2 separate regions of the Homo sapiens genome follow, and region 2 is linked to region 1. Evidence: fine-mapped expression QTL. A gene starts in region 1. The other region holds a variant in brackets. All regions are shown on one strand. Distances are between the middles of the regions. Region 1 holds the start of TMEM38A (transmembrane protein 38A). Region 2 overlaps TMEM38A (transmembrane protein 38A).

Region 1 (15,671 bases):
TCAAGACCACCCTGGGCAACACAACAGAACCCCCATCTCTTTTTTTTTTTTTTTTTTTTGAGACAGAGTCACTGCAACCTCCGCCTCCCCCCAGGTTCAAGCAATTCTCGTGCCTCAGCCTCCGGAGTAGCTGGCATTACAGGCTTGCGCCACCATGCCTGACTAATTTTTATATTTTTAGTAGAGACAGGGTTTCACTGTGTTGGCCAGGCTGGTCTCCAACGCCTGGCTTCAAGTGATCTGCCTGCCTTGGTGTCCCAACTTGCTGGGATTACAGATGTGAGCCACCTCCTTCAGCCCCATGATTCTGAGTTATTTATTTAATTAATTTATTATTTATTATTTATTTTTCTGAGACAGAGTCTTGCTCTGTTGCCCAGGTTGGAGTGCAATGGCATGATCTCTGCTCACTGCAACCTCCGCCTCGCAGGTTTAAGTGATTCTCCCACCTCGACCTACCAAGTAGCCAGGACTACAGGCGCCCGCCATCACGCCTGGCTAATTTTTGTATTTTTAGTAGAGACAGGGTTTCACCATGTTGGTCAGGCTGGTCTCAAACTTCTGACTTCAGGTGATCCACCAGCCTCAGCCTCCCAAAGTGCTGGGATTACAGGCGTGAGCCACCATGCCTGACCCACAATTCTGATTTAAATGAAAGAGGGGTGACAATCAGGACAAAAGGATTTTTTTTTTTTTTTTTCTGAGACGGAGTCTTGCTCTGTCACCCAGACTGGAGTGCAGTGGCAAGATCTTGGCTCAATGCAAACCTCCACCTCCCGCGTTCAAGCAATACTTGTGCCTCAGCCTCCCAAGTAGCTGGGATTACAGGTGCACACCACCATGCGTGGCTAATTTTTGTATTTTTTCTTAGTAGAGACGGGCTTTCACCATGTTGGCCGGGCTGGTCTCGATCCTGACCTCAAGTGATCCACCCGCCTTGGCCTCCCAAAGTGCTGGGATTACAGGCATGAGCCACCACGTCTGGCCCAAAAGGATTTTTAAAATCTCCCTAGGTGAGTCTGGTGTGTAGGTGAGTTTGAGAAGTACTGGTCTGAGAGATTCTTTGGATGGGTCAAGGCTCAAGGCAACCAGGATTGTCATTGATTCACTCATTTCTTCAGTTTTGCAGCCAGCACTCAACTGCTTCCTTCTCTTTCCTCACATGGAGCTTGGAGGCCCCAGAAATGAGCCAAATCACCCGCAGATTTTGCTCAAATACAGACTCTCATTGGGCAGAGCTGGGTGGGGCCTGGGTTCTGCATTTCTTTCTCTTTTTTTTTTTCCTGAAATGGAGTTTCACTCTTGGCTCTTGTTGCCCAGGCTGGAGTGCAATGGCGCAATCTCGGCTCACTGCAACCTCCACCTCCCTGGTTCAAGTGATTCTCCTGCCTCAGCCTCCTGAGCAGCTGGGATTACAGGCGTGTGCCACCATGACTGGCTAATTTTTGTATTTTTAGAAGAGACAGGGTTTCGCCATGTTGGCCAGGCTGGTCTCGAACTTCTGACCTCGGGTGATCCGCCCGCCTCGGCCTCCCAAAGTGTTAGGATTACAAGTGTGAGCCACTGAGCTTGGCCAGAACTCTGCATTTCTTTTCTTTTTTTTTTTTTTGAGATGGAGTTTCGCTCTTTTGCCCAGGCTGGAGTGCAGTGGTGCGATCTCAGCTCACTGCAACCTCCATCTTCTGGTTTCAAGCGATTCTCCTTCCTCAGCCACCCAAGTAGCTGGGATTACAGGAGCCCGCCACCATGCCTGGCTAGTTTTTGTATTTTTAGTAGAGACGGGGTTTCACCATGTTGGCCTGGCTGATCTCAAACTCCTGACTTTGTGATCCAGCCACCTTGGCTTCCCAAAGTGCTGGGACTATAGGCATGAGCCACCGCAGGGGCTCTGCATTTCTAATCAGCTTCCAGGTGACATTGACACTGCTCAGTTGAGGACCACACTCTGAGCTTCATTCTTTCTCAGGATTCTCAAGAAAGCCTCACCCAGCCAGGCACAGTTGCTCATGGGAAGCTGAGGTGGGAGGATTGCTTGAGCCCAGGAGTTGGAGGCCACAGTGAGCTATGACTGTACTACTGCACTCCAGCCTGGGAGACAGAGCAAGACCCTGTCTCGAAAAAAAAAAATTTTTTTAAAGTTAAATTGGCCAAGAGCAGTGGCTCACACCTGTAATTTCAGCACTTTGGGAGGCTGAGGCGGGTGGATTACTTGAGTTCAGGAATTTGAGACCACCCTGACCAACATGGTGAAAACTCATCTCTACTAAAAATACAAAAAAAATGGGCCAGGCGCAATGGCTGATGTCTGTAATCCCAGCACTTTGGGAGGCCAAGGTGGGCGGATCACGAGGTCAAGAGATTGAAACCATCCTGGCCAACGTGGTGAAACCCCGTTTCTACTAAAAATACAAAAATTAGCTGGGCATGGTGGCGCGTGTCTGTAATCCCAGCTTCTCGGGAGGCTGAGGCAGGAGAATCGCTTGAACCCGGCAGGTGGAGGTTGCAGTGAGCCGGGATCGAGCCACTGCACTCCAGCCTAGAGACACGGCAAGACTCCGTCTCCAAAAACAAAACAAAACAAAAAAATTAGCTGGGTGTGGTGGTGGATGCTTGTAATCCCAGGTACTTAGGAGGCTAAGGCAGGAGAATCACTTGAATCTGGGAGGTGAAGGTTGCAGTGAGCTGAGATCGTGCCACTGCACTCCAGCCTGGGCAGCAAAACAAGACTGCATCTCAAAAAAAAAAAAAAGGAAAAGAAAAGAAACAGAAAAGTAAGCAAGCCTGACCCAGAAAATGCCAGTATCCCAAGTAATATATTCCTCCCTAGACTTCCAAATAAACATCACCACCCCTCACAAATGCCTTAGACCTTATCCCTGACAAAATTCTCAATAGATCTTTACAATCGCTAGGAAAGGGAGTCTGGGGTTCTCTTACCAATGATCCCATTTCACAGACAAATAAACTGAAGCTCATGGTGGTGAAATAACCATTGTGGTGTTTACTCAGTGCTAGTGGTAGAACTGACTCCCATGATTCAGAGACGTTTAGTTTCTTTTTTCTTTTTTTTTTGAGACAGGGTCTCACTCTGTTGCCCAGGCTGGAGTGCAGTGGCACGATCATGGCTCACTGCAGCCTCCACCTTGCAGGGTTCAGGTAATCCTCCGACCTCAGCTTCCCTAGTAGCTAGGACTACAGGCACATGCCACCACACCTGGCTAATATTTTTGTATTTTGCATTTTTTAATTTTTATTTATTTGTTTATTGAGACGGAGTTTCATTCTTGTTGCCCAGGCTGGAGTGGAATGGCACAATCTTGGCTCACCGCAACCTCTGCCTCCCAGGTTCAAGCGATTCTCCTGCCTCAGCCTCCCTAGTAGCTGGGATTACAGGCATGTGCCACCACGTCCGGCTAATTTTGTATTTTTAGTAGAGACAGGGTTTCTCCATGTAGGTCAGGCTGGTCTTGAACTCCCGACCTCAGGTGATCTGCCCACCTCAGCCTCCCAAAGTGCTCGGATTACAGGCATGAGACACCGCGCCTAGCCATTTTTGTATTTTTTATAGAGAAGGGGTTTCACAATGTTGCCCAGGCTGGCCATGAACTCCTGGCCTCAAGCAATCTTCCAACCTTGACCTCCCCAAATGCTGAGATTATCTGACCTATGCTGACATTCTTTTTTTATTATTATTATTATTTTTTTAGGAGACACGGTCTTGCTCTGTTGCCCAGGCTGGAGGGCGGTGGGGTGATCATAGCTCGCTGCAGCTCCCAGGCAACATTGATGCTGCTCTGTTGAGGACCACACTCTGAGCTTCATCCATTCTCAGGATTCTCAAGAAAGCCTGACCCAGCCAGGCGCAGTTGAGCTCCAACTCCTGGGCTCAAGTGATCCTCCAGCCTCAGCTTCCCAAGTAGCTGGGACCACAGACACACACCACCATGCCTGGCTATGAAATTCTTAATTTCTGAACAAAAGGCCCCACACTGATACTTTGTATCGGCCTGGCAAATTCTGTAGCTGGTCCAGCACACAAATTCTGAGAAGAAAATTTACAGATACCCAGCACGCACACCAAACTGGGACTAACAGTTCAATCCGACACCTCACTTTTCTTTTCTTTCTTTCTTTTTTCCAAGACAGAGTCTCAGCCAGGCTCTGTCACCCAGGCTGGAGTGCAGCAGCGAGATTTCGGCTCACTGCAACCTCCGTCTCCTGGATTCAAGCTATTCTCATGTCTCAGCCTCCCAAGTACCTGGGATTACAGGCGTGCGCCACCACACCTGGCTATTTTTTTGCATTTGTAGTGGAGACGGGGTTTTGTCATGTTGCCCAGGCTGGTTTCAAAGTCCTGGGCTCAAGTGATCCACCCGCCTCGCCTCCCAAAGTGCTGGGATTACAGGCATAAGCCATCACATCTGGCCTCCAACACCTTTCTTTTCTAAGGAAACCAATCTCACATCAATTGTACTGATTCTTAGAGTCAAGCAGACCTGGGCTGAGTCCCGAGGCTGCAACTGACCAGCCATGGGACCACAGGCTCATTGTGTATTTAAGATAGCTTAGCCACTATTTCCTGTTTCCCCAGTTATGAAAGGAGGAGGTTGAACTGGGTGGAGTATCCTCAGCCCTGATAACAGACATCAGTCACTGAGGGAGGGGAGATTAATATTCTGATTCAATTGGTGGGGGGTGGAGATAGGGGGTTTAAAAGCTCCTAGGAGGCCGGGCGCAGTGGCTCACACCTGTAATCCCAGCACTTTGGGAGGCCGAGGCAGGCGGATCACAAGGTCAGGAAATCGAGACCATCCTGGCTAATACGGTGAAACCCTGTCTCTACTAAAAATACAAAAAAAAAAAAAATTAGCCGGGCATGGTGGTGGGCGCCTGTAGTCCCAGCTACTTGGGAGGCTGAGGCAGGAGAATGGTGTGAACCCAGGAGGCGGAGCTTGCAGTGAGCAGAGGCGGCGCCACCGCACTCCAGCCTGGGCGACAGAGCGAGACTCCGTTTCAAAAAAAAAAAAGAAAAGAAAAAAAGCTCCCAGGAGCGTCTCATGAATTCATGAATAGCCAGGGTTTGGAACCACTTCTCAGCCTTCAGGAACCTTCAGGCTCTGGCACTTAGAGCCTGGATGGCTTATTCTAGGACTTCTGCAGAAATATCTTGAACCTTCCTGCAAGTTCCCAGGCAGCTTGGAGACCTCTTTTCTCAAGACATTTGTGTCCTACATTCCCACAGGGCTCCAACCCTCCTCAGTTTCAGATTTTTTTTTTTTTCGAGACAGAGTCTTGCTCTGTCGCCCAGGCTGGAGTGCAATGGCGTGATCTCGGCTCACTGCAACCTCCGCCTCCCAGGTTCAAGTGATTCTCCTGCCTCAGCCTCCCAAGCAGCTAGGATTACAAGCATGTGCCACCATGCCTGGCTAATTTTTTTATTTTCAGTAGAGACGGGGTTTCTCCATGTTGGCCAGGCTGGTCTCGAACTCCTGACCTCAGGCGATCTGCCCGTCTTGGCCTCCCAAAGTGCTGGGATTACAGGCGTGAGCCACTGTGCCCAGCCAGTTTCAGATTTTCTAAGGTTCTGCAACTGCCCAAGGAACTGGCCTGAACCACCAAGAATTCTTCCCCAGAAAGGAAAGATAGCCCCATGTTCATGCTAGGACAACACAAAAGCCTATTTTGTTTTGCAAAGTAATGTTCTCCAGGATAGCTTTTAAGAAAATAGGCTCTGGCATGTGGATAGGCAAAAATAGAATAAAAATTCCTAGCAAATAGAGTGTAATCCTGTTAGCATAAGAGCGTGCATTGGCTGGGTGCAGTGGCTCACGTCTGTAATCCCAGCACTTTGGGAGGCCTAGGTGGGTGGATCACAAGGTCAGGAGATCGAGACTATCCTGGCCAACATGGTGAAGGCTTGTCTCTACTAAAAATACAAAAATTAGCCAAGTGTAGTGGCGGGTGCCTGTAGTCCCAGCTACTCAGAAGGCTGAGGCAGGAGAATCGCTTGAACCTGGAAGGTGGAGGTTGCAGTGAGCCGAGATCACGCCACTGCACTCCAGCCTGGGCGACAGAGCGAAACTCCATCTAAAAAAAAAACCGCAAAAAAAAAAAAAAAAAAAAAAGCGTGCATTTACGTTTATAACTATATAGCCGTAAATGAATAGAAGAGACATCAAGAAAGGTGGCTGGCCACCAGTATGTTGACAGTAATTCTCTTTTTTTCCTTTGCCCTTTTCAGTTTGAGTTTTTAGTAAACAGGGGCGCTTATTTTTATCCTCTGAGAATAAAGCTATTTCCTTTCTGAGCTATAGTGGTAATTTACATCTAAGTGGGAGAAAGGCTTATGAAGTTTGGGGTTCCTTTATTTTTCTAAGCCTAAAATCTATTATCTAGTAAGTTGCTGGTGTTCTAGAATAACGGTGAACAAGAAACATTTAAACATTTGTTCACGGTGAACCTTTTATAAAAATAGAACACGTTCTAAGGAAGCCATTCATCCTCATTTTAAAAATTAAGAAGCAGGCTGTACCCTCCTGTGACCTCCCCAGCGTGGAGTCTGGAGCTGAGATGGAGGACACTGACCCCAAGTCACCCAGCCTTGGGGCCGGTTCTGCTCCGTAAGTGGAAAGGATCTGGAGCCAGGGCTGGAAGAATTCCCGTGGGGGCTCGGAGATTCAGCACCGTGGGGGAAGGGAGGGGAGTGGAGGGTGCTGGGCAGTTGCAGTGGGGAGGAGAACCGGTGTCACTTTCGCTGAACCTGACCGCAGCCCCCAGCGCAGTGGCCCTTATAGACACTCCGCTGGCGCTCTCAATCCGCGTGCCAAGGTCAAGGAGGGAGGTCACACCTGCGCGCGGCCAGAACAGATGCACCGACCCCCACCTGCACCCTCGCCACAGCCGGCGCCCCTTGCCCAAGTTCCTGCAGCTCTGACCCAACCAGGAGCCCCGACCCCAAGCACCTGTTCCCCCTCCTCTAAACCCGCGCACGCCTCTCCTTCCCCTCCCCCAGCTTCATCGTCCTGGGGGCTTCTCCCCCGGGCTCACCCCGGCGTGAGAGAACCCCACGATTCTAGCGCCTGCCTACTCCCACGATGCAATCCTTGAACCTGTCCCTCGCTCCCTCCACCACGCACGGGCTTCCCCTCTCTGCGACCCCCGAGCTGCCCCGGCCCGCGCCACCCGCTGCCGGTCCCCTCCAGCCCCCCGCCCCGGCTCACCTGGCTCATACTTGAGGTAGAGGATGGAGACGATGAAGTAACTGAGGTCGAAGACGGGGAAGAGCGGCACCCGCGAGAAGCTGAGCGCCAGTTCGCCCAGGCTCAGCGCCGAGAGCAGCTCCATGGCGCCCGCCTGCCCGCCTGCCGGGTGCCACCCGGGGCCCCGGCCTCGTCCGTCCCGCCGCCCGCGGCCCGGCGACTGCGCCCCCGCAGCTGGGCCCGCCCCCGCCCGCCAGGCGCCACCCCAGGCCCGGCCCCCGCGGGAGAGGAGGGGCGACGGCCCACCCCGGGACAGGTGGTGGGGACGCCCAGCACCACGGACGCAGCTGGACGGTCGGGCGTCCCAGGCGTTGACCCTCCTGCCATCGCTACCCCGTTCCGCCCAGCGAGGCGGGGTGCGGGGCACCCGTGCAAGGCGAGGGAGGCTGGGGAGCTGCCTGTTCTGGGGGCCCGTCCCTCACGGAGCCCACCCACGCGGGACGCCCGTTCCCAGGGGGCCGGATCGGCCAGGACTTTGTCCCCGTGGGCTCAATTAGGACCCCGATCTTCGGTGGAGCCCAGTGAGGACCCCTACGCCATGGTGGGACCCCATGAATCAGAACCCCTGTTCCCCGTGGAGATAGGTTAGGACCTCGGTCCTCTGTGGAGCCCCGTCAAGACTTTTCTGCCCCATAGGGTCCGTTCGATCAGGAACCCCGTCTCCGGTGGGGCTCTGCAAATCAGGACGTCTTGTGGGGGGCAGCTCAGTGGGAACCCCCGTTCCCCATGGGGCCCAGGAGGATCTCATTTTAGAGCCCAGTTGGTTGGGGCACCCGTTTCTAGGGACCCCACTGCGTCAGGACCCCGCACCCTGTGCAGCTCAGGAGTCAAAGGATTCCTTTTGTCCAGAAGCCCAATTTGGGACCCCAGAAAGTGAGTAGGAATTGCTGCCCAGCTAACCCTACGGCATCGAGACCTCACGCATGCGCGGCACGCTTCGAACGCGTGACCCAATCCCGCCCCCAGGAGACCCCGCTCCTCCCATTCTGGCTCTCGGGGCCTCCCCAGCGAGGTGGGGCGCTCGCGCTCCCCTAAGGGGGTCTGGCCTGCAGAGGGCGGGACCCTCCCAGCCTTGACCTTCGATTGGCCCAGCCCTCGCCACTGTTGCTTTAGGATTGGTCGGCTTGTGCTCCTCTCCCCTCCCTCCCTGGGGCTTCCGCTTCCGGTTCTGACGGACGCTTCGGCCGTAACGATGATCGGAGACATCCTGCTGTTCGGGTAATTAGGGGGACCAGAGGCTGGGAAGAGAGAGCCAGGCAGGACGCGGGGGCGCCCCTAGTAACTGTAATTCTCCCTCTGCAGGACGTTGCTGATGAATGCCGGGGCGGTGCTGAACTTTAAGCTGTGAGTAGGTCGCGGCCGGACTGCGGCTCCATCCGGGGAACCCGTAGCCCCGCCCTCATAAGCGTGATCTCGGCGCACTTCTCAGGCCCCGCCCCCAAGCCGCAGGCCCCGCCCTATCCGCCCTCTGGGCACGCCTCCAGCCTGGTTTATCTTCCTCGCCCCCCACCCCCCGAGAGACCTTAAACCCATACTCTCCGTTCCTTGGTTGTCCCTCTGTTCACCTTCCTGGAGAGCTTAAGCCCCATCCCCCAAGAAATAGCCCCACCGCGGACCTTCCGCCCTGCACCCGCACTGTCGGGCCACTTTGTAAACGGTCGGTGGCTGCTGACCTGGCTGTGATTGTCCGGGCAGTGGGGGCCCAGAGAAGGGTATTGAACGTCAGAGGTCACACAGCAAGTTTGCGGCAGGGCCAGGGCTGAAACTTAGTGTTTGTGGCCTTCTGAGCTGGGGGTCAGGGGGCTGAGGACTCTATGTCCCATTGAAAGTGGACACTGTCTGCTCCTCTTTGTAGGAAAAAGAAGGACACGCAGGGCTTTGGGGAGGAGTCCAGGGAGCCCAGCACAGGTAAGGTCTAATTGGATCCTGGAATTGCATGGTCCACTTCAGAGGACAGTTCTGTTTCGCCAAGCCCTACCTTCGTTTTCTTTCTTTCTCTTTTTTTTTTTTTTTTTTTTTTGACACAAGGTCTTGCTCTGTTGTCCAGGTTGGAGTGCAGTGGTGCGATCATGGCTCACTGCAGACTCGACCTCCTGAGCTAAAGTGATCCTTCCACCTCAGCCCCCTTAGTAGCTGGGATTACAGGTGTGTGCCACCATGCCAGGCTAAATTTTGTATTTTTTGTAGAGATGGGGTTTCTCCACGTTGCCCAGGCCGGTCTCGAACTCCTGGGTTCAAGTGATCCCTGCCTTGGCCTCCCGAAGAGCTGGGATTACAGGCGTGAGCCACAAGTTTTCTCTTTAATTGAGCGTGTGTGTGAGTGGGAGATGACTGAGAATGTGCTAGCCTTTCTGCCTACCTCTGTCATCTATTTCTTTCTCCTACCAGACCTCCCTGATGTGAGCACTCACATCACTTCCTACCGTTATAATGTTCTGTTATGTTTGCTGTCATCTGGCTAATGTCTGCCCCTCACATATGACTGTAAACTTCAGAGAAGAGGCCCTAGCTTGGCTTGTCCCATCCTTTGTTCTTGCCGTACCCGTCCTCCGATGCCTGTGAATGAATGAATGAACAACCTCACACATAGCTGTTGCTTTCAGAGTGCTGCAGACCTGCCACTTTTAAAATTAGATGCCAACATTAGATTTTTAATCAGGAGATTTTATATAAAAATTAAGATGTCTGATTTTTCTTGAAAAATTGGAACATTCTGCAACTCAAGATTCAGGAGAGCTGTTTGCATCTATTGAGTGTAGTTGAGAAGGACTCTGAGGAGGTGGGGCCTGTAGACTCTGCCTCATCCCAGCCCTAACCCCTTCATATGTCTATCATCTGCCTGGGCCCTGGAGGCCCCAGAATTTACACTTCCTGCTGAATTTGATTGTGTAACTATTTGGAGTCTTAAGGGGATCTGTACATGACTATTGTATCCATTCATTAATTCTTTCATTCACCAGATATTTGAGTACCTAACGCATGCTGGCTACTGTGCTAGGTGCTGGGGTACAGCAGGGGTAAGACAGATAGAGTGGAACTTACCATGGGGTGGGACACATGGTTTCTAAGCAGGGAATAGATAGTGACAGAGGTGACGTTAGGTGACAGAGGCAGGGAGTCACAGGATGGTGATGGGGTTGCCCTCCTGCTGGGGTGTGGAAGGGAAGGCCATTTGAGGAGGCGGCGTCACAGTCAAGGCGGTGGATGCCATGATGGAGCACTGCCCAAGGATGGGGGAACCCTGAGGAACAGAGGTTTTCTTCTTTTAGAGACAGGGTCTTGCTCTGTTGCCCAGGCTGGAGTGCAGCGGCACAGTCATAGCTCACTGCAGCCTTGAGCTCCTGGGTTCAAGAGATCCTCTTGCCTCAGGCTCCCAAGTAGCTGGGACTACAGGCACTTACTACCACGCCTGGCTAATTTTCTAAATGTTTTTTGTAGAGATAGGTATCTCGCTGTGTTAACCAGGCTGGTGTCCAACTCTTGGTCTCAAACGATCCTCCCACCTCAGCCTCCCAAAGTGCTGGGATCACAGGCATGAGCTACCACGCCTGGCCGAGCTGAGATTTTGAAGACACTCCAGCAGCTCCCCTTTTTGGGGGCCTGCCCTTGGGTGCTGACCCAGTTAGGTGCTTCCTGTTAGTGTTGCATTCTCCCTCCATTCTTAAAAGATAATGGTCACTTTCCCATTTTACAGATCAGGAAACTGAGGGTCAGAGATGTGGCTCAACTTTTTTGTGGCCACATAGGGAATCAATGAGAATCAGGATTAGAACCTGGGTTTTTCTGACTCTAGCGGTTGTGCACTCAATCACTAGACCATCTGTCCGTCTATCCATTGATCCATCCATTCATACATTGACTCAGCAGCCATGTGTTACTTAACCCCCACGTGGAAGGCACTACCAGGCCCTAGAGTTGCACTGTACAGATCCGAATCAGAGCTCCAGTGGGCGGGAGATTTGGCACAAAGTGGCAGGAGCATCAGTGACAGGGATGCCAGGCAGGGCACCAGTGCTCTGTCAGGAGCTTCCTGCTTTGCTGTGTCCAGTCTCCTTCCAGCCCAGGTGCTGCACCTGCTGCTTCCCCTGTGGGAGCTGCTCTTTGCCCTCCATCCTCTTTGCCTGGCTTAACTGTAATACCATAGTGGCTGCATTTGTTGAGAGCGTCATGCGTGCCAGGCAGTGTGCTAAGGTCTTCCTAGCTGCCTGACACCCCTATTGACACAAGAGGGAATGCACATAGATAGTGCAGGGATGGTCCCAGGTCACCAGGTCACCTGTGCAGAAGGACAGAGGCAGGATTTGAGCTCACATTTGTTAAACTGCCCATGTTTGAGGTCAGAACTTGGAGCTCTGGCACTTCCTCAGAAAGCCTGTTTTTTGTTTTTTTGTTGTTTTTTTTTTTGAGATGGAGCCTCTCTCTGTTGCCCAGGCTGGAGTGCAGTGGCACCATCTCAGCTCCCTGCAATCTCCGCTTCCTGGGTTCAAGCAATTCTCCTGCCTCAGCTTCCCTATTAGCTGGGATTACAGGCACCCACCACCATGCCCAGCTAATTTTTGTATTTTTAGTAGAGATGGGGTTTCGCCATGTTGGCCAGGCTGGTCTCGAACTCCTGACATCAGGTGATCTGCCCTCCTTGGCCTCCCAAAGTGCTGGGATTACAGACTTGAGCGACGGCACCCGGCTGGAAAGGCTTTTTTTTTACCTCCCACCCTTCCCCATGCACATGCCATGTTGGGTCTCTGCAGTGTGTATTCCCAGGACACCCAAACTTTCCCACCAGAGCAGTCACATGTGAATATTTGTTTAGTATTTCTCCTCCCCATATGCTTGTTGGGGCAGAGCCACCGGTCTTTGTTTCTTTCTGTATCCCCTGTATACTGCTGTTGCCTGGAATGAGTAACCTTTTTTTATTTTTTGAGACAGAGTCTCACTCTGTTGCCCAGGCGTGCAGTGGCGTGATCTCAGCTCACTGCAGCCTCCACCTCCTGGGTTCAAGTGATTTTCGTGCCTCAGCCTCCCGAGGATTTGGGATTACAGGCACGCGCCACCACGCCCTGCTAATTGTTTTGTAGTTTTAATAGAAACGTGGTTTCACGATGTTAGCCAGGCTGATCTCAAACTCGCGACCTCAGGTGATCCACCTGCCTCGGCCTCCCAAAGTGCTGGGATTACAGTTGTGAGCCACTGCACCCGGCCTGGAATGAGTAACGTTTGATTGGCATCTGTTGATGGTGGGAGGTCCTGTTTTCACGATCCTTCGCTAGGGGAAGGGTCTTGCTGAGCAGCGCCTCTCAAAACTTCCTGGAAACAGACCAAGCATTTAATGTTTCTAGTCTGTGCTGGATCAGCCCTGTATACAGGTTGTGCTGCACGTGACTAATCCTGTCGGCTAGATAATACTAGGCTCGTCTAAACCGTTTTCAGCAAGATGGTGTGTTCAGCACAAGCTCGGATGGAGCAGGGATGTCAGGTTGTCATCCCTGAAAAAGTAGAAATTTCTGGGCTTGTGTTGTGTATGCTGTACTTACCATGCAGCCCCAGTCTGCAGATACTTCGGGTAGCACCCTTGTAGATCACCTAATCTGGAGCCATTCTTTTTTTTTTTTTTTTTTTTTTTTTGAGATGGAGTCTTGCTGTGTCACCCAGGCTGGAGTGCAGTGACACCATCTCAGCTCACTGCAATCTCTGCCTCCCAGGTTCAAGTGATTCTCCTGCCTCAGCCTCCTGAGTAGCTGGGATTACAGTCATGCACCACCACACCCGGCTAACTTTTGTATTTTTAGTAGAGACGTGGTTTCACCATGTTGGCCAGGCTGGTCTCGAACTCCCGACCTCAGGTAATCTGCCTGCCTCGGCCTCCTGAAGTGCTGGGATTACAAGTGTGAGCCACCATGCCTGGCCTAATCTGGACCCATTCTTTTCATTCTGGAGGGCTTGAGAGGGAGAGTGATTGACTGGAAACCCTGGAAGAAGGGTCTAGAACCCAGGTCTCTGGAGTCTTCACGTACTAAATTGCCTTCCCTCGGAGGGGTTTCTGTTCCTTGGCATTCAAGGGGACCAGAGTAAGTCATCACCAAGAAACACCTTCCCTTTCACTTGCCTGAATTAGGATGCTTTCAGTTACAAACACTGCAAACCCAGCTCAAAGTGGTTAAAGCAAATTGAAACATCCAACAGAATTGTTTTCAGGCACCCTGGGTTTAGGTGTCAAACCAGTCCTTCAAGATTAGGGTTGGGGTTGGAGTTGGGGTTAGGGTTAGGGTTAGAGTCAGTATCTGACTCTCTGCAGCTCTCAATTCCCCTTTCTTTTATGTTGGTTTTACTGTGAGACTGGTTAGGGTTGGCAAAGATGACCCCAGAGCAGGGGTTGGCATGTTTTTCTGTAGAGGGCCACATAGTAAATATCTGAGGGCTTTGCGGGCCATATGGTGTCTGTCTGGCACAACAATGTGACTCAGCTCTGCTGTTGTAGTACAAAAGCAGCAGGACATGATATGTAAATGAATGGGTATGGCTGTGTGCCATAAAACTTTATTCATTGACACTGAGATTTGAATTTCTTGTAATTTTTGTGTCTCACAAAATAGTCTTCTTTCTTTTTTTTTTAATGTAAAAACCAGCCGGGTATGGAGACTCATGCCTGTAATCTCAACACTTTGAGAGGCTTAGGCGGGAGGATCACTTGAAGCCAGGAGTTCAAGACCCACCTGGGGAACATAGCAAAACCCCATCTTTATATTTTAAAAAAAAGTAAAAACTATTAGCTCATAGGCCATCCAAAAACAGGTGGAAGAGGCTGCTGGATTTGGCCTGTGGGCACTGAGCTTACTGAGCTTACATCTTCCCAGCTCAGTAAGCCTGGCAGAAGGTATCTCTTTCCCAGTAGTTGGGGGAAAAGTCCCAGGGTGGACTCTCATTGGACAGACTTGGGTCACATGCCCCTTCTTGAGCCAATCAGAGGCAGAGGGGCTTGGTGCTTTCAGGGGATTGGTCAGTGGTAGACACAGCCTGATGAGGGTAGGGAAGAGGGAGAAACCAAAAGGAAAAGCCACACTGTTGCCGAAGTTGGAGGCAGCAAGCGCCGGGTGGGTGGAAGTCACAAAAATCCACTGCTGAGGTGGCAGTAGGGATGGGATGTTAGCTGTGCCATAAAAGTGCTTTCTGATTCTTCCAGGTGACAACATCCGGGAATTCTTGCTGAGCCTCAGATACTTTCGAATCTTCATCGCCCTGTGGAACATCTTCATGATGTTCTGCATGATTGTGTGAGTCCAGCCTGCCCTTTCCTTTCACTGTCGTCTCTTAGTCTCCTTCTCCAGGGTGACCCACCTGATGGTCATTCTCTGTCTTTTCAGTCATCACTCTTGTATCCTGGTTTCTGTTTTCTTTATTTTTTGTTTTGTTTGAGATGGAATCTTGCTCTGTCGCCTAAACTGGAGTGCAGTGGTGCGATCTGGGCTCACTGCAACCTCGGCCTCTTAGGTCTAAGCGATTCTCCTGCCTCAGCCTCCCGAGTAACTGGGACTACAGGTGCGTGCCACCACACACGGCTGATTTTTTGTATTTTTAGTAGAGACGGGGTTCCATCGTGTTATCCAGGATGGTCTTGATCTCCTGACCTTGTGATTCGTCCACCTTGGGCTCCCAAAGTGCTGGGATTACAGGAGTGAGCCACTGTGCACGGCCCTGTTTTTTTTGTTTGTTTGTTTTTGTTTTTGAGATCGAGTCTTGCTCTGTTGCCCAGGCTGGAGTGCAGTGGCGTGATCTCGGCTCACTGCAACCTCTGCCTCCCTGCTTCAAGCGATTCTCCTGCCTCAGCCTCCCGAGTAGCTGGGATTACAGGTGCCCACCACCACACCTGGCTAATTTTTGTATTTTTACAAGAGACAGGGTTTCATCATGTTGGTCAGGCTGGTCTTGAACTCCTGACCTCATGTGATCCACCTGCCTCGGCCTCCCAAAGTGCTGAGATTACAGATGTGAGCTACCACACCCGGCCCTGCTTTCTGTTTTCAAAATAAGTAAGTGAGGGAACCAGTATCTGAAGGGGTTAAACTCTGTCCCTGTGTCCCCACCAAACCGGGCTGGAACTTTTATTGGAACATGGAGTTCTCCAGCCCCCGGCTATGCCCGGCACCTCTGCAGGGGCTGCCAGGAGATGCCGTCCCTGAGCCCATGGCCCTGTCACGTCTCACCAGTTCTTCTGCATCTGCCGAGGTGGAAAATATGGTTTAAATGTCCAGCACACTGCCAGATCCTGCTCCACCTGGGCTGGAAGCCAGTAGAAATGTATTCAGACTTTATTGTTTTAAATTCTGGCTTTTCATTTTCTCATTAGGCTGAGAAAACTCAAGCAGATTGCCTTTCCATCTAGCACTGGGGCCATAACTCTGATACTACTGTTAACGA
Region 2 (15,671 bases), 26 kb before region 1:
TGGATACATTCGAGACTCATTCATGTTTTTGCATGTTCACCACCTCCACCGCCTTTTTTTTTTTTTCGCTGAACAGTAGGCAATACTATGGGCGGAGCACAGCTGTTCATTTATTCACATTTTTGTTTTTTTAAAGACAGAGTCTTGCTCTGTCACCCATGCTTCAGTACAGTGGCACCATCACAGCTCACTGCAGCCTCAACCTCCTGGGCTAAAACAGTCCTCCGTCCTGCACCTCCCAAAGCCCTGGGATTATAGGTGTGAGTCACCCATGACCACCCTATGTTTAACTTATAGTGTTTTTGTTTTGTTGGTTTTTTTTTTTTGAGACGGAGTCTTGCTCTGTCACCCAGGCTGGAGTGCAGTGGCGCAATCTCAGCTCACTGCAACCTCTGCCTCCTGGGTTCAAGTGATTCTCCCGTCTTAGCCTCCTGAGTAGCTGGGATTACAGGCAGGTGCCACCATGCCTGGCTAATTTTTGTATTTTTACAAAATTACACCTTGTTGGGGTTTCACCATGTTGGTCAGGCTGATCTCAAACTCCTGATCTCAAGTGATCTGCCCACCTCGGCCTCCCAAAGTGCTGGGATTACAGGGGTGAGCCACTGTGCCAGGCTAACATTTTGTTTTTTGTTTTGTTTTGTTTTGGTTTTTTTTTTTTTTTTTTTTTTTTTTTTGGAGATAGAATCTTGCTCTGTCACCCAGGCTGGAGTGCAGCGGTGCAATCTCAGCTCACTGCAACCTCCCCATCCCAGGTTCAAGGGCTCCTCCCGCCTCAGCCTTCAAGTAGCTGGGATTATAGGTGCACACCACCACGCCTGGCTAATTTTTTGTATTTGTAGCAGAGACAGGGTTTCACAACGTTGACCAGGCTGGTCTCGAACTCCTGAACTCAAGTGATCTGCCCACCTTGGCCTCCCAAAGTGCTGGGATTACAGACGTAAGCGATTGCACCTGGCTTCTATGTTTAACTTATAAAAAAACCTGCCAAATTGTCTTCCAAAGTGGTTGCACCTTTTTACCTTCCTACCAAAGCATATGAGAGTTCCTATTGCTCCACATCCTCACCAGCACTAAAATGACCATATTGTCATTTTAATTTTAGCCATTTTGTTGGATGTGAAGTGACAACTCACTGTGGTTTTGATTTGCATTCTTCTCATGGCTGAAGATGTGTATCTGACTGGGCATGGTGGCTCACGCCTGTAATCCCAGCATTTTGGGAGGCTGAGGCAGGAGGATTGCTTGAGCCCAAGAGTTCAAGGCCAGTGTGGGCAACAGAGCACGACTCCGACTCTACAAAAAATACAAAACTTTGCCAGGCATGGTGGCATGCACCTGTAGTCCCAGCTACTCAGGGGGCTGATGTGGAAGGATCGCTTGAACCCAGGAGGCGGAGGTTACAGTGAGCCAAGATTGAGCCACTGCATTCCAGCTTGGGCGACAGAGCAATACCCTGTCTCAAAAAAAAATGTAAAAAATTAAAAATTTTAAAAACATAAAAAACCTTAAAAGAAACTGTCCAATTGTCTCCCACCAGCAGTGTGTGAGTTCCAGCTGCCCCCAAATCCTTACCTACACTGGATATTGTCGGTTATTTTTATTTTATCCATTCTAAAAGGTGGCGGGGAGCAGTGGCTCATGCTTGTAATCCCAGCACTTTGGGAGGCCAAGGCAAGAGGATCACTTGAGCCAGAAGCTGGAGACCAGCCTGGGTAACATAGGGAGACCCCAACTCTACAAAAAAATTAGGCCGGGTGCGGTGGCTCACCCCTGTAATCCCAGCACTTTGGGAGGCCGAGGCAGGTGGATTACCTGAGGTCAGGAGTTCCAGACCAGCCTGGCCAACATGGTGAAACCCTGTCTCTACTAAAAATACAAAAAATTAGCTGGGCGTGGTGGCACATGCCTGTAATCCCAGAGGCTGAGGCAGGAGAATCGATCGAACCTGGGAGGCAGGGATTGCAGTGAGCTGAGATGGCGCCACTGCACTCCAGCCTGGGCAACAAGAGGGAAACTCCATCTCCAAAAGAAAAAAAAAAAAAGGCCTTATCTCCTGTCTTAGTCCATTTAGGGTGCTACAAGAAAATACTAGAAAATGGTGGCTTATAAACAACGGAAATTTATTTCTCACAGTTCTGGAGGCTGGGAAGTTCATGATCAAGATACTGGCAGATTCACTGTGTGGTAAGGGCCGGCTTCCTGGTTCATACGTGTCTTCTCTCTGTGTCCTCACATGGTAGGAAGAGCAAAGTGTTTCTTTGGGGCCTCTTCTGTAAGGGCACTAATCCCATTATGAGAGCCCCACCCTCATGACCTAATCATCTCCCAAGGGTCCCACCCCCTAATACCTTAGGGGTTAAGACTTCAACAAATGAATTTGAGAGGAACCCAATTCAATTCATAACAGGTATGCAGTGGCATATGCTTGTGGTTTTAATGTGCAATTTATATGATATCTGCCAACCATATAATTTCTTTGGTGGTGTCTATTCAAATCTTTTGCCCAGTTTTTTTTTGAGACAGGGTCTTGCTATGTTGCCCAGGTTGGACACCACCTAACGGGCTCAAGTGATCCTCCTGCCTTGGTCTCCAGAGTAGCTAGGACTACAGGTGTGAGTCACCATGCCCAGCTTCTTTTGCCCAATTTGGTGTGGAGTTTTTTTCTACTTTATTCTTATTTTATTTATTTATTTGAGACAGGGTCTCACTGTTCCGCCCAGGCTGAAGTGCAGTGGCCCAATCTTAGCTCACTGCAGCCTCAACCTCCTGGGCTGAAGTGATTTTCCCCACTCAACCTCCAGAGTGCCTGGGCCTACAGGCACGAGTCACCACCCCCGGCTAATTTTTAAATTTTTTTTTGTAGAGACAGAGTCTCACTATGTTGTGCAGGCTGATCACCAACTCCTGGGCTCCAGTGATCCTCCTGCCTCAGCCTCCCAAAGTGCTGGGATTACAGGCGTGAGCCACCAAGCTCGCACTTTTTTCCCTTATAATTGAAGGGTTCTTTTTTACAGCTTTATTGAGGCATCACTGACAAATGAGGTACTGTGTGTATTTGCAATGTACAATGTAATAGGTTCTGACATGTGTATAGACCCGAGAAACTAACACAATCAAAGAAGTTAACAGACTCATCACTCATGTCCCCTTGCCCCTTCAAAATCCCTCCTGCCCACCCCACCCTACCTGCCTTTCCCCAAGCACCCACTGATCAGCTTTCTGTAATTATACATTAGTTTGCTTTTTCTAGGATTTCATATAATGTATGTAATGTATACTGTACACAGTATACATTTTTTTTTTTTTTGAGATGGAGTCTCGCTCTGTCTGCCAGGCTGGAGTGCTGTGGCGCGATCTCCGCTCACTGCAAGCTCTGCCTCCCAGGTTCACGCCATTCTCCTGCCTCAGCCTCCCAAGTAGCTGGGACTACAGGCGCCCGCCACCACATCCAGCTGATTTTTTGTATTTTTAGTAGAGATGGGGTTTCACCATGTTAGCCAGGATGGTCTTGATCTACTGAACTCGTGATCCACCGACCTCGTGATCCACCTGCCTTGGCCTCCCAAAGTGCTGGGATTACAGGTGTGAGCCACCATGCCCAGCCTTTTTTTTTTTTTTTTTTTTTTAAAGAATGAGTTTTGCTCTTGTTGTCCAGGCTGGAGTGCAATGTCTCCACCTCAGCTCACCGCAACCTCCACCTCCCAGGTTCAAGCGATTCTCCTGCTTCAGCCTCCCGAGTAGCTGGGATTACAGGCACCTGCCACCACACCTGACTAATTTTTGTAGTTTTAGTAGAGGCAGGGTTTCACCATGTTGGCCAGGCTGGTCTTGAACTCCTGACCTCAGGTGATCTGCCCGCTTCAGCCCTCCAAAGTGCTGAGATTACAGGGATGAGCCACCATGCCCAGCCATCCCCACATCTTGAGGCCAAAATCCCAGGCATGTGGCTGGGCTCAGTGGCTCACACCTGTAATCCCAGCACTTTGGGAGGCCAAGGTGGGTGGATCATTTGAGGTCAGGAGTTCAAGACCAGCATGGCAACATGGTGAAACCCCGCTTTTACTAAAAATACAAAAATTAGCCAGGTGTGATGGCGGGCACCTATTATCCCAGCTACTCGGGAGGCTGAGGCAGGAGAATTGCTTGAACCCGGGAGGTGGAGGTTGCAGGGAGCCAAGATCGGGCCACTGCACTCCAGCCTGGGCAAGAGTGAGACTCGGTCTCAAACAAAAACAAAAACAAAAAACAAAATCCCAGGCATAAATCAGACAAGCCATGAGGGTTCATTCACAATGATTTATTGGCTGCCCCTCCACACCGAGCTGAGGTGGACAAGCAAGAGGATGAAACCTCCCCAGGACCCACCTAACTCCCAGGCATCACAGGAACAAGGCAATTTTCCAACAGCCTGGCAACGTCTGGGACTCCAACGAGGTCTGGGCCCAAACCTCACCTGAGACTGGCCACGCCCGTCCCATGCACCCACCCCTCTCAGACATCCTGGTGACCTAGGCTGAGATGAGGGTGACCAGGAGGGACCCTTCAGCTATAATATCATCCACCTCGCTCACACTGAAGCAGGCTCCTGGCCCGCCCAGCAGCAGCACAAGGCTGACCACAGAGCAGGTAAGCATCTGTATGTTTGTTCAATGGCTGAATGAGTGACAGTGGACTCCAGCCTGAGGGAGACCTGATACATCCAGGTCCCAACTGTGCACACTCAGAGCCCCTTGATAGAGCTGGATCGTGGAACCCCAACCAGCTGTTTCCATTTCTTTGGTTTAGGGGGAGCCTGAGACGAACAGATCACAAGCCTTTCACGCCATCTGATCTCTCAAGCCTGCCCTAGACGTGTCTACTGAGGGCTTCCTTTGTGCCAGGGAACTTGTGCGTTTCTCTGATCCACACACACGAATGATCTAAAATGCAAAGCCATTTGCAATCATAATTTCCAACTGTCCTGGTCTCCCCTCCTGACTGCACGAGGCTAGGAGCATGTGAGCCTTTTTTAACTGCAGCTTCGCATCGGCCCTTCCGTACAGAGGGGGGCCAAGGGTCTCCACTATACAGATGGGGAGCGCCAAGCTCAGAGGAGGAAGGCAACTTGTCCAGGGACGCCCAGCAAGAGTCGGGACTTTCTGGCCACGTGAAAATGTCTAGCCACTGAGGAGCGTGGTAAGAAGAGACTTTGAAATGGCAGCACCTGGCTCACAGGTACTTAGAAAATGTCCATCAAATGAATGGATCTCAACATGGCTTGAAGTTCTTCAGGAGTCAATATGCAATTTTTTTTTTTTTTTTTGAGACAGGGTCTTGCTGGAGACAGGTCTTATTGGCCAGGCTGGAGTGCAGTGGGAAGATCTCAGCTCACTGCAACCTCCACCTCCTGGATTCATGTGATTCTCCTGCCTCAGCCTCCCGAGTAGCTGGGATTAAAGGCGTGCACCACCACGTCTGGCTAATTTTTGTATTTTTGGTAGAGATGGGGTTTCACCATGTTGGCCAAGCTGGTCTTGAACTCCTGACCTCAGGTGATCTGCCCGCCTCGGCCTCCCAAAGTGCTAGGATTATAGGCATGAGCCACTGTGCCTGGTCAAGATGCAATTTTAAAGAAGGAAAAATACAACTAAGAATATCATGCCAACCAGTGACATTCTTGACTGGAGCTGCTGCCAGGATTCTGTGAACCCCTCCAAAAGCTGTGACTCTATGGGGTCCTGGCAGAGAGAAAGAGGGAACCCCGATTTCTACAAAAGTTCTTCATCCTCATCCCCATATCTCAACCCCCACATCAGCCCTGGAGGGTGAGCCAATGACCCTGATTTGCAGATGGGGAAGTCAAGGCCAGGAAAGGATAGATCTGAGCGCAGGAAGCCTCCCAGCTCAGAGGGTCCTGGGTCCGGGTCCTCTCCCCGGTGCCCCTTGGGCCACCCCCTAATCCGCCTTCTTGGCCTTCTTCTTCCTGGAGCCCTCGCTCAACTCCTCCTTGGACTTGGCGGGCATGGCCGAATGCTGAGCTCCTGGCCCACCACCGCTGTGGGACCCACCATGGTTGTCGTGGTGATGGTCACCCCCGCAGGCCGAACCAAACAGCACGGGGCAGATGTAGCCCTCCAGGGCATCAAAGGGGGAGCTGTGTGAGTGGGTGGCTGTCAGAAACACCTGAGGTGGGGTGGCCAGGGAGACAGCAAGAGAGACAGAGGGAGACCAAGGTAGAAAGCAAAGGAGTGGAGGGCAGGGTGGGGAGAAGAGGGGAGAGAATGTCATCAAAGTCAAGGTTGGAGGTAGCCCAGACCCAGCCCTCTGGCTGCATGCACCCCCAGGATGATGGGCGACCATCTCAGGTTTCCCAGGATGCCAGATTTCAAGTGTTGACCCCTGGAAAGTTCCAAGCACACTGAGACTGCTGGTCACCCATCCCCCAGAATTCCCCACGACACCTGGGCTCAGAGAAAAGCTGTGCTAAGTGCAGGTCTGAAGGTCTGTGTCCTCCCAAATTCATATGTTGAAACCTATCACAAAGGTGATGGTATTAGGAGGTAAGGCCTTTGGAGGGGTAATTAGATCATAAGGGTGGAGCCCTCAGGAAAGACATTAGTGCCCTTATAAAGAGGCCCAGGAGAGCTAACCAGTCCCTTCCACCATGCGAGGACACAGTGAGATGCTGCCTATCTGCAACCAGTAAAGAGGGCCCTCACCAGAACCCGACCAGGCTAGTACCCTGATCTTGGACTTCCCAGCCTCCAGAACTGTAAGAAATACATTTCTTCCTTTTCCTTTTTTTGGAGACAGGGTCTCACTCTGTTGCCCAAACTGGAGTGCAATGGCATGATCTCAGGTCACTGCAGCCTCCACCTCCTGGGTTCAAGCAATTCTCATGCCTCAGCCATCCAAGTAGCTGGGATTACAGGCATGCGCCACCACGCCTGGTTAATTTTTGTATTTGTATTTTGTTTGCCTGTTTGTTTGTTTTTGAGACAGAGTCTCAATTTGTTGCCCAGGCTGGAGTGCGGTGGTGCGATCTTAGCTCACTGCAACCTCCACCTCCCGGGTTCAAGCGATTCTCCTGCCTCAGCCTCCCGAGTAGCTGGGATTACAGGCATGTGACCCCACGCCTGGCTAATTTTTGTATTTTTAGGAGAGATGGGGTTTCGCCATGTTGCCCAGGCTGGTCTTGAACTCCTGGCCTCAAGTGATCTGCCTGCCTTGGCCCCCTGAAGTGTTGGCATGAGCCCCCGTGCCTGCCCAGGAATAAATTTCTGTTGTTTCTAAGCCACCCAGTCTATGGTACTGCATTCTGTTATACAGCAGCCTGAATGGACTAAGACATTTGGCCTGGGGTAGAGCTACAAACATAGCAGGACAGGATCCCAGCCATCTGCTTGCCTCTCCCTTCTCGCCTAATGCAGGAAGACATGCTCACTCCCTTTTGACAGCCCTGGAGTCCTCACCCAGGGAAGACACAGCCCTGAGCTAAGATCTTCATGCAGAGGGAGAGAGCCCAGCCCCTGAAGACCCCTCCTGGGTGGGGTGATGTCAACTCAAGGCATGACTGTCAGACTAGAAGTATTCCTGGTCCAACTGAGTTCCTGGGTACCTGATGCTGCCATTTCAGCTTCTTGTCCCTCTGGTCTCTGTACCCAAGAGAGTGGGCCCACCTTGACCCTGGCTCAGGCTGGGTCCTTTACACAGAAGGCCTGTTCCTCTCATCTGTGTCCTGGCTGCTGGACACTGCCTTTTAAACTCTCTTCCCAGTGACCTACTGGCAAGCATCTCCCCTCTCTGGGCTGCCTGTCCCAGCCACATAAGGCTGGGAGTGTCCAATTTCCCCACTCCCAACCTGGAGGTGGCAGGGTGGCATTGGTCAAGGCAAGAATGCTGCAAGAAGAGAAAGGCTTACCTTACAGGACACCATGAACAAGGTGAAGATGAAGATGAGGCTGGCTTTGGACACTGGGAGCCAGCGGGTCTGCTGGAGGGTGAAGAGGATGGCTCCATACAGGCTGGCCTTGGTGGGGCTGGAGGGAGCAGCTGTCATTACCGGGAGGTGCCTGCATGGCTCAAGTCTTCATAACTCTGGCCCAGACACCCCCCTGCCCTGGCACCAGCTCCCATCCCAGCTTCTCTCTTTTCTTTTCCTTTTGAGATGGAATCTCACTCTGTTGCCCAGGCTGGAGTGCAGTGGCACAACCTCGGCTCACTGCAACCTCCACCTCCTTGTTTCAAGTGTTTCTCCCACCTCAGCCTCCCAAGTAGCTGGGATTA[C/T]AGGCATATGCCACCATGCCTGGCTAATTTTTGTATTTTTAGGAGAGACAGTGTTTCACCATGTTGGCCAGGTTGGTCTCGAACTCCTGGCCTCAAGTGATCTGCTCGGCCTCCCAAAGTGCTGGGATTATAGGCATGAGCCACTGCGCCCAGCCACAGCTTCTCCTGATTGTAAGGTGGCAGGTTGAGATGGTGTCATCCTATGCATGATGGGTTAACCTGGTCCAAGGAAAGATCTGGCCTTTGTCCAGCTCCTGGAATATGCCCTCTAAGCCCTTGGAGTGTCCTGCCTTGATAAGACTGTCTTTGTTTGCCTGAGGACGGCCTTGGGCCACACCAGGTAGTAACAACGTAATTTATGGTGGGGGTCTTGGGCCATGCAGCATCAGGTGGACCTCTAGAGGGGCTGAAGACTGAGGTCAGCCACACAGGTGGTTAGCTAGTTCTGAGCCACAATAAAAATCCTGGATACCCAGGCTCAGAAGAGCTTCCCTGGTTGGCAGTACACCATGCATGTTGTCACACATTGCTGCTGGGAGAATGAAGCCCTGTCCACATGATTCCACTGGGAGAGGAAAACTGGATATTTTCACCTTTTCTTTCCTGTACTCTGCCTCATGCACATTTTGCCCCTGCTGATTTCTTGTTTGTGTATGAGTCAGAGTCTCATTCTGTCACCCAGGCTGGAATGCAGTGGCATGATCTCAGCTCCCTGCAACCTCCACCTCCTGGGTTCAAGTGATTTTCCTGCCTCAGCCTCCCGAGTAGCTGGGATTACAGATGCCCGCCACCACGCCAGCTGATTTTTGTATTTTTACTAGAGATGGGGTTTCGCCATGTCGGCCGGGCTGGTTTTGAACTCCTGACCTCAAATAATCCACCCGCCTCAGCCTCCCAAAGTGCTGGGATTACAGGCATGAGCTACCACGCCCAGCCAACCCCTGCTGATTTCGTTTTATTTATTTATTTATTTATTTATTTATTTATTTACAGAGACAGGGTCTCTCTCTATCACCCAGGCTGGAGTGCAGTGGTCTGATCATGGCTCACTGTAACTTCAAACTCTGAGGCTCAAGTGATTCTCCCACCTCAGCCCCCCAAGTAGCTAGGGCTAGAGTTATGTGCCACTGTGCCTGCTTAATTTTTAAGTTTTTTTTTTTTTTTTGTAGAGATGGAGTCTTGTTCTATTGCATAGGCTGGTCTTGAACTCCTGGCCTTGAGCAATCCTCCTATCTCGGCCTCCCACAGTGCTGGGATTACAGGTGTGAGCTGCCTCTGCTGATTTTATTCTATATCTTGTCACTGTAATAAATCATAACCCTGAATATAATGGCTTTGCTAAGTTCTCTGAGTCCTTCTAGCAAATCATGGAACATCAGGATGATCTTGGGGATCCCCCATCAGCTTATTTCCCCCAGAAAATGTGATTACAACATGCAGAGTTTTCCTTAACTTTTATTTTTTTCCTTGCAAAATAGGTTTAAGATATTTTTATTTGTTGCAAAAGACAGACCTGTGACTTCTATTCCTGATGTCTGTCTCTCATTGCTTTTTTTTTTTTGAGACAAGGTCTCGCTCTGTTGCCCAGGCTGGAGTACACTTGTGTGATCACAGCTCACTCCAGCTTCAACCTTCTGAGACCAAGCGATCTTCCTGCCTCAGCGTCCTGAGTAGCTGGGACTACAGGCACACACCACCACACCTGGCTAATTTTTTTTTTCTTTTTTTTTTTAGAGATGGGATGTTGTAATGTTGCCCAGGCTGGTCTTGAATTCCTGGTTTCAAGCAATCCCCCTACCTCAGCTTCCTGAATAGCTGGGATTACAGGGGTGGGCCACCATGCCCAGCTTCACTGCATGTATTTAATAATCCTTCCTTCCTCTCTCTCTCTCTCTCTCTGTTTCTTTCTTTGAGACAGAGTCTTGCTCTATTGCCCAGGCTGAAGTGCAGTGGCAGGATCTCGGATCACAGCAACCTCTGCCTCCCGGGTTCAACCGGTTCTCCTGCCTCAGCCTCCCATGTAGCTGGGACTACAGGCATGCCACCACCCCTAGTTAATTTTTTTTTTTTGAGATGGAATTTCGCTCTTGCTGCCCAGGCTGGAGTGCAATAGCGTGATCTCGGCTCACTGCAACCTCCGCCTCCCAGATTCAAGTGGTTCTCCTGCCTCAGCCTCCCAAGTAGCTGGGATTACAGGCATGCACCACCACACCCAGCTAATTTTGTATTTTTAGCAGAAATGGGGTTTCTCTATGTTGGTCAGGCTGGTCTCAAACTGCCGACCTCAGGTGATCTGCCCACCTCAGCCTCCCAAAGTGCTGGGATTACAGGCGTGAGCCACCGTGCCCAGCCTAATGATGATAATTCTCTCTAATATTTCCAAAGCACTCACCAGGTTCCAGGGCCAGGTGATTTAAATGCATGATCCCTTTTTTTTTTTTTTTTTTTGAGACAAGGTCTTGCTCTGCCACCCAAGCTGGAGTACAGTGGCATGATCCTAGCTTACTGAAGCCTCGAATTCCTGGGCTCAAGTAATCCTCTTGCCTCAGCCTCCTGAGTAGCTGGGACCACAAGTGCATCCCACCATGCCTAGCTAATTTAACTTTTTTTTTTTAATATAGAATAGGTCTCACTATGTTGCCCAGTCTTGTCTTGAACTCCTGGACTCAAGCAAACCTCCAGGCTTGGCCTCCCAAAGTGCAGAGATTACAGGTGTGAGCCACCACACCCAGCCCCCAACAAGGTCTTTTAAAAATGCACTAAACTGTCCAGGGCAGGGTGGCTCATGCCTGTAATCCCGGTATTTTGGGAGGCTGAGGTCGGCAGATCACTTGAGGTCAGGAGTTCCAGACCAGCCTGACCAACATGGTGAAACCCCATCTCTACTCAAAATACAAAAATTAGCCGGGCATGGTGGCACATGCCTGTAATCCCAGGTACTCAGGAGGCTGAGGCACGAGAATCTCTTGAACCTGGGAGGTGGAGGTTGCAGTGAGCCGAGATCATGCCAGCATACTCAAGCCTGGGCGACAGAGCAAGACTCTGTCTCAAAAAATAAAAAAATAAAAAACATTAAGCTAAATGCAGTGTGGGATCCTGCATTGGGTCTTGGATGCTGTCACCTGGCCTTGTCCACTTAGCTCCAGATATGCTCCCAATGCACACTCCATATCCCATGCATACCCTGTACCCTGACCCCGCACACCCAGCAGCACTGCTGCTCTTCTGTGATTTCACAGTTGGCAGAGATGCTGGCCTCTGTTGGGAGGCTCCTTCTTGGCCAGTGAACTCCTGCTCACCCTTCAAAACCCCAATCAGGTATTGCCTCCTTCCTGCAGCTCTGCCCTCCCCAACCTCCACACTGAGCAGAGCTATGGCTCTGCTTTGAGCTTCCCCAGTCATAGCCTCTGAAAGCTCCTGAAAGGCAGAGTCAAGGGTTGAGGCCTCTCTAAGTTATCAGCAGCATCCAACTCAGGGTCAGGCACCCGGACATACAGGAGGCATGGAGGGAGAGGTGGAGTGGGATACTCACAAAGACATGTGCAGGATCTCGTTGGTCTCTGGCTTCCAGACCCCTCGGAGCAGCTGCTCAAAGTTGGACATGAGGGCGACACCAGAACCTACAGGACAGGGTGCTTCTGAACAAGCCCACCACCCCCAGGTCTCCTTTCCTCTTGTTTGAATTCCCAAGGAAGCAGTCTCTCCACTCCCAGAATCTTCTCTAGAAGGACACTGAGCCTGGGGGTGTATGATCATCAGCTGCAGGTGGGGAAACTGAGGCTCAGAGAGGACAGAGCCTTGCTGAGGATCATATGGCAAATTCAGAGCAAAAGCCACCTAAAGGAATCAGTCATGTCCCCACCTGCAAGGCAGGTCTTCAACCTGGGGTTGTCTGTCCTGATGCCCCTAATCCAGGACCCCAAGCTGTGTATGAGGCTTCCAAGGCAGCCCCCACCCGCAGTCTCTCTCCTCCTCAAGGCTCCAAGTTCTTAATCTTTCTCAAGCCACCCATCCTCTGGAGGAGATGCTATACCCCTGGGGAATCTGCTCAGTACTAAAAGCTTCCTGGAGAGACAATAAGAAGACTCAAATGGAGATAGAATGATTAAATTTCTGGAAGAATCTTCCCATTTACCCTAAATGTACTGGTTAAATAGACTTGGACATCCACTCCAGGAACTGCTGCACCAACTGGGTGCCTGAGATGTACTACTGGACCAGGGAATCGCATCTGGGGCCATTTTGCCCCCAAGGAAGCATCTGGCAATGTTGAGAAACACTTTGAGTTGTCACAGCTGGGGAGGGAGCGCTACTGGTATTTAGTGAGTCGAGGCCAGGGAGGTGGCTCACCATTGTATAATGCACAGGTTGGCTCCCCATAGCAAGGAATAACTGAGGACACCATGGCTCAATGGAGGGTGATTCTAGGTCTTGGCACTTTGTGGGTACCCATATCTGGTGGGCAGGAAGCGAGGATAAAGTGCCCAATGGTTTTTGGCACTTGCTCAGGCCTTCTTTCCCTGCTTTCCTGTTACTCCTTGGCCCACTTCTCCAACTTTTAATGTTGAATTATCTCTTTCTCCCCTAACTTCTGTCCATTTTTGCTTTATGTATTTTGGTGCTCTGTTTCTAGGTGCATATATGTTTATAGTTGTTATATCTTCCTGGTGGATTGACCCTTTTATCATTATAAAACGTTCTTTATTTCTAATAACATTTTCATTATTACTTTATTTTTTAATTTTAATTTTTTAGAGACAGACTCTTGCTCTGTTGCCCAGCTGGAGTGCAGTGGCACAATCATAGCTCACTGTAATGTTGAACTCCTAGGCTGAAGTGATCCTCCCACCTCAGCCTCCTGAGTAGCTAGAACTACAGGCATGAGCCACCATGTCTAGCTCTATTTTCTGCACACGAAAGGGTCTGTAGGCTTCACTGGCAAAAGGGCCATGGTCCACAAAAGTTAAGAACTCCTATAGCTAGAGCTCTAGAGAAGAAGGGGTTCTCACCTGCAGCCATTTTGCCCTCTAGGAGGCGTTTAGCAATGTCTGGAGACAATTTCTTTGTCACAGCTGGGGACAAGTGTGCTACTGGCATCTCGTGGGTGGAGGCCAGGGGTGCTGTTCAACATCCTATAGTGCACAAGGCAGCCCCCACCACAAAGAATGATCCAGCCCCACATGTCAGTAGTGCTGCAAGTGAGAAAACCTGCTCTGGCAATGCTGGCTTTTGTCATCATCATCACTGTCTTAGGTACCCCTGACAGTAACATTTCTAGAAGAATCTTCCCATTTACCCTAAAGGTATCGGCTGATACCTGTAGGGAGGTTTGAACACCTACTGCAGTCTTTATGCCCCTGTGCCTGGAGCAATGGCTTTCCTAGCTGGGGTGCCTGGTAGTACCACTGAACCAAAAGTTCTCCACTGGGATGATTTTTCATTGTCATCATCCTATTTACCTTTGACCCACCCAGTTGCAATCATGACGAACCACCCGTGGTGGTAGTGGTGATGGGCGTGATGGATGCCCACCGCGATCTTGCGGACTCGCACCACCTCCTTCATGGCCACGAAGATGAGTTTCACAGGCAGGAAGCAGACACACTTGTAGAAGAGGTCCAGGGGGCAGAAGAAAATCAAGTACCTTTTGGGGAGAGAACAGTGAGTGCCAGGGGATGGGCAGACTGTGAAGGATGGGGGTAGGGAGCTGTGGTTATATCAGACCACCCTCCCCAACGTGCTGTGCCTAGACCAGAGATGGGCATGGAGGGCAGCATATTCAGGGCCATCATGAGGGCTGTTGCTGGTGCATTCTAATTCCTCCAACCTCTCTCCTCCCTGGTGCCCAGGTTGTTGTTTCCCCCACCCGGCTCTGCTCTCCCATGCCCAGCATGGCTTACCAGACAGCTGAGGCCAGCAGGATGCTGGAGTTGTTGCTGAAGTAATCGATCAGTGGCTCCCCAAGGAGCAGATCAGCCAGGATGTAGCTCCCGAAGCAATGCAGCATGGCGCACAGCCAGGACGCGATGGGGTGGCGCCGGGACAGTTCGACTGCTCCTGGGAGGCACAGGAGTGTCCCCCATCATCACCAGCATGCCAAGGGCAGGCTTCACTCCCATATGCTCTGGTCAGCCTATCCTAATCCAGAGCGCCCACCCAACACTGTGCAGTTTGTAAGTTTCAGAGGAGGAACCAAGGTTCAGAGAGGCTGTACGCATGCCTGAGGTTGCACAGAGAAAATAGAGAGCCGAGTGGGAGTCCTTTCCTTCATGCCCAGAGAGGTGGCAATGATGATGACACTAGTTCACATTTAGGACTTAATAAATCCTCATCAGTGTCCCAGCCAAGTGATGGCTTTTATTATCAGGAGTCTCATTGTCAAGAGGAGACTGAGGCTTGGTGAGACGGGCCAGCTTGTACCTGGGAGTACTTTGAAATTGCTACTCTGGGCCGGGCATGGTGGCTCACACCTGTAATCCCAGCACTTTGGGAGTCCAAGGTGGACAAATCACTTGAGGTCAGGAGTTCAAGACCAGCCTGGCTAACATGGTGAAACCCCGTCCCTAAAAATACAAAAATTAGCCGGGAACGGTAGTGCATGCCTGTAATCCCAGCTACTCAGGAGGCTGACAGGAGAATCACTTGAACTCAGGAGGTGGAGGCTGCAGTGAGCTGAGATTGCACCACTGCACTGCACTCCAGCCTGGGCAACAGAGCAAGACTCCATCTAAAACACACACATACACACACACACACACACACACACACACACACACACACACACACACGAAACAAAAGAAATTGCTATTCTGACCTCAGCTGATCCCAAGATCCCTATGAGCTTATGCTGGTATTCTTTTTTTTTTTTTTTTTTAACTTTTTTTGTTTGTTTCAAACAGAGTGTCACTCTGTCACCCAGGCTGGAGTGCAATGGTGCAATCTCAGCTCATTGCAAATTCTGCCTCCCAGGTTCAAGCGATCCTCCTGCCTCAGACTCCCGAGTAGCTGGGATCACAGGCAGCCACCACCATGCCTGGCTAATTTTTGTATTTTCAGTAGAGAAGGGGTTTCACCATGTTGGCCAAGCTGGTCTCCAACTCTTGGACTCAAGTGAACCTCCCACCTCAGCCTCCCAAAGTGCTGGGATTACAGGCATGAGTCACCGTGCCCAGCCTTATGCTGGTATTCTTACACCTGCTGTCTTAAAAAGAATTTTTTTTTGTAAAATATACATTAAATTTATCACTTTACTTTTTTTTTTTTTTTTTTTTTTTGGACACAGGGTTTCACTCCCATCACCCAGCCTGGAGCGCAGTGGTGCAATCACGACTCACTGCAGCCTTGACTTCCTGGGCTCAAACACTCCTCCCACCTCAGCCTCGAAAGTATTTGGGACTACAGGC

What was found. PIP is the estimated chance that this variant, and not a neighbour inherited with it, causes the effect.
Region 2: its variant is fine-mapped to the expression of TMEM38A in whole blood (TOPMed, PIP above 0.99).

Annotation. Positions count from the first base shown.
Region 1 is chr19:16,652,891-16,668,561 of GRCh38, reverse strand. TMEM38A (transmembrane protein 38A) reads right to left here and starts at 7,423. Exons shown (of 6, transcript NM_024074.4): 1 at 7,221-7,423. The coding sequence starts at 7,344. It overlaps SMIM7 (small integral membrane protein 7), which reads left to right and starts at 8,418. Exons shown (of 5, transcript NM_024104.4): 1 at 8,418-8,477; 2 at 8,562-8,603; 3 at 9,115-9,167; 4 at 14,437-14,527. The coding sequence starts at 8,452. RefSeq lists an enhancer at 6,262-7,070 and silencers at 7,356-7,605, 7,626-7,825.
Region 2 is chr19:16,678,638-16,694,308 of GRCh38, reverse strand. It overlaps TMEM38A (transmembrane protein 38A), which reads right to left. Exons shown (of 6, transcript NM_024074.4): 2 at 14,169-14,325; 3 at 13,728-13,912; 4 at 11,801-11,888; 5 at 7,904-8,021; 6 at 4,286-6,165. The coding sequence ends at 5,938. Among named protein-coding and RNA genes, the nearest start is that of TMEM38A, 25 kb to the right of the region's middle. RefSeq lists an enhancer at 14,252-14,752. The variant C/T (reference allele first, on the strand shown) is at 8,269.